2 separate regions of the Homo sapiens genome follow, and region 1 is linked to region 2. Evidence: fine-mapped QTL for protein levels in blood plasma. Region 2 holds a variant in brackets. A gene starts in the other region. All regions are shown on their forward strands.

Region 1 (2,900 bases), not on the chromosome of region 2:
AGGCTGCAGCATCTCTGTTTATGTTCTGGTCACGTTTATTTACAATTAATGGGTTCTCAAATCCAAACAAAACTGACCACAGTCTTCTAGAGGAAGTAGCAAGGTTGGCTCTGAAGCCTATAGCATCGCTGACTCAGTCTGTCCCCTGGAAGGCTGGCAGCTCAGCAAGCACAGAAGTCTCTCCAGAAGACAGTGGGTCACCTGCCTCCCAAAAGCTGAAAGGCTAACTTGTACTTTCCCCAGCAGGCAGCTGGCACCCTGAGCCCTCGGCTGGGGCAGAGCAAAGGAGCCTTCCTCCTTCCTACCTTCCTGGCACTCTCCCTGCCTTCCTTCTGTCACTCTCAGGTGGACCCAGACCCAAGGTCCAGATTTGCAAGGCAGGAAAATGCTGCAGGCCTAGGCTGGGAAAGGGCCCAAAGCCGCTAGTGGATTGCTGGGACTCAGCCTCCTCCTTCCCACTAAGAGAGCGAGTCCTACTGGGTTCAAAATGACCCCAAGCCCTGGTTCCTGACACTAGGGGAAAGAGATGGGGGTGACAGAATCACAGAATCCCTGCTATGTTCCTCCAAGTGTGCCCAGAGATGCGTGTGTGTGTGTGTGTGTATACACAAATGTCTGCTTATCCTCAGGCAGGAAGGGTGGATGCAGTCATTTACACATGGTCTGTTTTTCTGGAGGACAATTTTATTTGATAAACAATTGTTTCTATCTGAATAGAATAAACAAGGCTCTATGATGAAGTAAAACACTAAATACACATGCATTAAAAAATGCATAATTATCTTTTTGGAATGGGCTATACAGAGATGTGCTTTTTAAAATGTTAAGAGTGTAAAAGGACAAACAGTGAAAAATAAATCTTCCTCTTATTTTGTCCTCCAGTCTCCCAATTCCTCTACTCAGAGGTGAGAACAGAACTTCCACACCCTCCAGAACCTCCACAGTTAGAACTGTCTACATGTTTCCATTGTCTTTACTTTTATTCTTGCCTGCACAAATAAATGAATTGCTCATTATGGAAACTTCCCAAAAGACCCGTTAACACTTCAATAGGAAGCACCAACAGTTTATGCCCTAGGACTTTGTTCCCACAATCCTGTAACATCATATCACGACACCTAACCCAATCCTTATCAAGCCCTGTCAAAAACGGACTTTAAACCAAGCTGCAAATTTTCAGTAATCTGGCCTTGCCTTTCCCCCTCTGATAGCACCATCAAACAAACCCCCTTACTGCCGAAAGCAATAAGCCCGGCTTTGTTCCATCCACTGGTTGTGTTGGTGATATCTGGGGACTGCCACTGAACAGACGCACAGAGGGAGCCCCTACAGGCAGGGGTTTTTCTGTCTGTGCTTCTGGGAGAGTATGTCTCGTACATTTGTCGCGTTGATGAAGACTTCACAGCTCCATCAGCTGCGGGCAAGGGGGTCTGAGGCAGTCTTAGGCAAGTTGGGGCCCAGCGGGGAGAAGTTGCAGAAGAACTGATTAGAGGACCCCAGGAGGCTTCAGAGCTGGGCGAGGTAGAGAGTCTCCTGTGCGCCTTCTCTCCTCTCTGCAATTCGGGGACTCCTTGCACTGGGGCAGGCCCCCGGCCAGGTGCATGGGAGGAAGCACGGAGAATTTACAAGCCTCTCGATTCCTCAGTCCAGACGCTGTTGGGTCCCCTCCGCTGGAGATCGCGCTTCCCCCAAATCTTTGTGAGCGTTGCGGAAGCACGCGGGGTCCGGGTCGCTGAGCGCTGCAAGACAGGGGAGGGAGCCGGGCGGGAGAGGGAGGGGCGGCGCCGGGGCGGGCCCTGATATAGAGCAGGCGCCGCGGGTCGCAGCACAGTGCGGAGACCGCAGCCCCGGAGCCCGGGCCAGGGTCCACCTGTCCCCGCAGCGCCGGCTCGCGCCCTCCTGCCGCAGCCACCGGTGAGTGCCGCGGTCCTGAGATCCCCGGGCCGGATGCGCGGCGGCCCCAGCTCCCGAGCGTCTGCCTCCCCCGCCCTGGGCTGCCCGGGCTCCCTGGGCTCCCCGGCGGCTGCACGGAGTCAAGGCGCCCCGTCCCGGGCGTCCCCCGCGGGTGCCGATCCAGGCTGCCCGGAGTCCGGAGCCCAGAGAGGAGAGAGACAGCTGGGGAGCCTGGTCACCGCGGGCATCTCCCCTGCGCTGCAGTCGCCCGCCTGGCCTGCCTTCCCGTTCCTCCGCCTCTTGCCCTGACTTCTCCTTCCTTTGCAGAGCCGCCGTCTAGCGCCCCGACCTCGCCACCATGAGAGCCCTGCTGGCGCGCCTGCTTCTCTGCGTCCTGGTCGTGAGCGACTCCAAAGTGAGTGCGCTCTTGCTTTGACTGATGCTGCCCAAGGACCTCTGATCAGCACCAGGGGAGAGGAGGGGCTGCTCAGGGAGCTGGGGTCCTCCGGATTCCATCCACAGCAGGGCCAGACTCTCCCCAGGAAATGGGACAGGGTGGCAGCGGAGGCTTGAGAACCACGGGGGTTGGCACTGGCTGGCAAGGGAGGAAGAGGCCGCCGGGACTGCCCCAGCCTGCGGGCATCTGGTAGATGAAGCTTGCTTGGGTCAATCCATTTCTCCTGGCTGGAAACCCATGGTCTTCCATTTGAGAACTAGATACGAACAGGGTGAGGCGAGAGGGAGAGGGAAGAGTGGGTTTTGGGATTGGGGCCAGTTTACCCTCACCCTGGAGTCCCTGGAGCATGGGACCTTTGATGAAGCCTCCTCCCGAATCTCTTCCAGGGCAGCAATGAACTTCATCAAGTTCCATGTGAGTATCCACCCCTACAACAGTTGGCTGCACAGACAAGTTGGGAAGGCTTCAGGGGACATCCCCTCCCTGCCCTCTGCTGCAGGGCTGCGCCACCCCTTACCACTTCCACTCCCCCTCGCTTACCCCACCTTTG
Region 2 (2,900 bases):
ATCCCTTGAACTAGGAGGTGGAGGTTGTGGTGAGCTGAGATTGTGTCATTGCACTCCAGCCTGGGCAACAAGAGTGAAACTCCATCTCAAAAAAAGAAAAGAAAAGAAAAGAAAAAGGAAAAGGAAAGAAACATGAAATGTGGCTTGACGGTGAAGGACAGGTTTATTTTAGAGAAAACCAACCTGAGGGGGGCTTTTGGCTGAGTTAGGTTAGAGAGCCCTTTTTTTTTTTTTTTTTTACAGACTAAGGATATTTAAGAGTTTTGGAAGGGGGTGCTTATCTAGGTTCGGAATGTTTTCATGTGAGGAAAAGTTTATTGTGGGGTTGGAAAGTCTCTGGTCGGAAGGGAGGCTATCTGGGGGTTGGCATGTTTCTGGTCAGAGAGGGGTTTATCTTAGGGTTGGAATGTTTCTGGTTATGCTGATGGTAGCCATTAGGCTGATGTTTTGGGGCTGGATTTAGCTGATTTTTTTTTGAGACAGAGTCTTGCTCTGTCACCCAGGCTGGAGTGCAGTGGTGCAATCTCGGCTCACTGCAAGCTCCACCTCCCGGATTGACGCCATTCTCCTGCCTCAGCCTCCCGAATAGCTGGGACTACAGGCACCCGCCACCACGTCCGGATTTAGCCGATTTTTAATCAAGAGGAACTAAGAATGGTGGTGTTTGTTCAAGATGGCAGTGCTCCTGCTCTGTCAGCATTTGGAGTCCAGAAATAGATGTGGAGGCAGCCCCCAGGAGGACTTCCAACCTAGGCAGGGGCCTCAAACATGACCCCTGATTCCAGGAGCCTGTGAAAAGGTGTCCCCCACCATTTATCCTCCCAAAGATAGACACTACAAAGAAGGGCATACCTGGCCTTGTCCACTGGTACAAAATCTTTATGTAAGTATAAAATAAATAATATGAATATTAATTAATAACAACAACACAACAGCGGCAACAATATTAATAATAACAAGAGCTCTCCCATTGGCCCACGGCCTTCCTCCAGCTTTTCTCTTCTGCTTCACACAACTTTGTGAGATAGCTGTTTTCATAGCTGGGAAAACTGAGGCCCAGAGAGGTCGGCACACTGGCCTGAGGTCACACAGCAAGTCTGTAGGGCTGGGAGCCGAGGGAAGGGCAAAGGGGTCCCCCGGATCCAGCCAGGGCAGAGAGGGGGATTTCAGGTTTAGGTCCAGAGGAGAGTGCCTCCCCACAGTCTGGCAGTCATTAGCAGGGTGATGGTGAGGCTGAGATGGGCAGGGCCAGGCTGAGGAGCAGCCCCACTGCGGTACTGGACATCCAGGTCTGGGTGGTTACAGCCACTTTTAGTACAGCAGGAGACATCAATGTGGTTCATGCTGAAGGCGTCACCCAGGTGGGCATGTTGGCACA[T/C]TGAGGCGGTTGCACAGCCTCTTACCATATAGCTTTGGTTTTTCGGTTCTGAGGAAAGAGAAGACGGAGTGAGACTTCCAGCTCCTGGGCCCAGGACTGGAATTCTCCAGTAGGTGACCTGCCACCTTGCAGTGGGTGCCACCTTCACTACCACCTAGAGAAAGCAGCAGTTCTCAGGGCCAGGTGTGGTGGCTCATGCCTGTAATCTCAACACCTTGGGAAGCCAAGGAGAGAGGATAGCTTGAGCCCAGGAGTTCCAGACCAGCCTGGACAACATAGCAAAACTCTGTTTCTACAAACATAAAAAAGAAAAAAACAGCTGTAGTCCCAGCTACTTGGGAGGCTGAGATGAGAGGATCACTTGAGCTCAGGAGATGGAGGCTGTGGTGAGTTATGATCACGCCACTGCACTCCAGCCTGGGTAACAGAGTGAGACCCTGTTTCAAAAAACAAATAAAAAGAAAGAAAGGAAGGAAGGGAGGGAGGGAGGGAGGGAAGAAGGAAGGGAGGAAGGGAAGAAGGGAAAGAAAAGAAAGAAAGAGAGAGAGAGGGAGGAAGGAAGGAAGGAGAAGGGAAAGAAGGAAGGAAGGGAGGAAGGAAGGAAGAAAGAAAGAAAGAAAGGGAAAGAGAGACAGAGAAAGAAAAGGAAAGAAAAAAAAAGAAAGAAAGGAAGCGAGCAGCGGTTCTTAAAGTGTGGCTCAGGGACCCCAGAGACCCTTTCAGGAGATCTGTGATTTCACATGGCTTTTTCACTCTCATAAGTGTACAATGGGCTTTTCCAAAAACTCCAGGACATGTGATATTGCAAGAGACTGAAAGCAGAAGCTTCCATGAGGACCCAGCTGTCTTCTATTAAGCTGGACATTAAAGAGATGTGCAACACAGCAAAATAATGCCAGTTTTCTCATTACGCTTTTTTTTTGTTTTTTTTTTTGAGATGGAGTCTCACTCTGTCACCCAGGCTGGAGTGCAGTGGCACGATCTCGGCTCACTGCAACCTCTGCCTCCCGGGTTCAAGCAATTCTTCTGCCTCAGCCTCCCAAGTAGCTGGGACTACAGGCGCGACCACCATGCCCAGCTAATTTTTGTATTTCTAGTAGAGACGGGGTTTCACCATATTGGCCAGGCTGGTCTCGAACTCCTGACCTTGTGATCTGCCCGCCTTGGCCTCCCAAAGTGCTGGTATTACAGGCGTGAGCCACCGCGCCTGGCTGGTTTTTTTTTTGTTGTTTCTTTGTTTGTTTTTTTAAGACAGGGTCTCGCTCTGTTGCCCAGGCCGCAGTGCAGTGGTGCAATCTCCGTTCACTGCAACCTCCACCTCCCAGGCTCAAGTGACCCTCCCACCTCAGCCTCCCAAGCAGCTGGGACTACAGGCATGCACCACCATGCCCAGCTAACTTTTGTATTTTCTGTAGAGACAGGATCTTGCTATGTTGCCCAGGCTGGTCTCAAATCCCTAGGCTTAAGTGACCCGCCCACCTTGGCCTCCCAAAGTATTGGGATTATAGGCATGAGCCACCAT

Alleles and levels. Positions count from the first base shown, and alleles are read on the strand shown. Strength reflects both the effect of a copy and how common the allele is.
For the plasma level of the protein whose gene starts at base 1,828 in region 1, allele C in region 2 goes with a higher level than allele T (moderate association).

Evidence for each region. PIP is the posterior inclusion probability: the model's chance that the variant is causal. Protein levels are from antibody-based Olink assays in UK Biobank. Linkage for the fine-mapping came from a reference panel and not from the study's own genotypes, which makes the PIPs less certain.
Region 1: PLAU starts here. The variant in region 2 is fine-mapped to the plasma level of the PLAU protein (UK Biobank, PIP above 0.99).

What each region holds. Positions count from the first base shown.
Region 1 is chr10:73,909,305-73,912,204 of GRCh38, forward strand. PLAU (plasminogen activator, urokinase) reads left to right here and starts at 1,828. Exons shown (of 11, transcript NM_002658.6): 1 at 1,828-1,914; 2 at 2,221-2,308; 3 at 2,737-2,764. The coding sequence starts at 2,252. C10orf55 (chromosome 10 putative open reading frame 55) reads right to left here. Exons shown (of 5, transcript NR_160938.1): 4 at 2,896-2,900; 5 at 665-2,791. RefSeq lists enhancers at 1-503, 1-809, 59-108 and a silencer at 1,775-2,374.
Region 2 is chr19:43,647,718-43,650,617 of GRCh38, forward strand. It overlaps PLAUR (plasminogen activator, urokinase receptor), which reads right to left. Exons shown (of 7, transcript NM_002659.4): 7 at 862-1,426. The coding sequence ends at 1,173. Among named protein-coding and RNA genes, the nearest start is that of CADM4, 9.3 kb to the left of the region's middle. The variant T/C (reference allele first, on the strand shown) is at 1,379.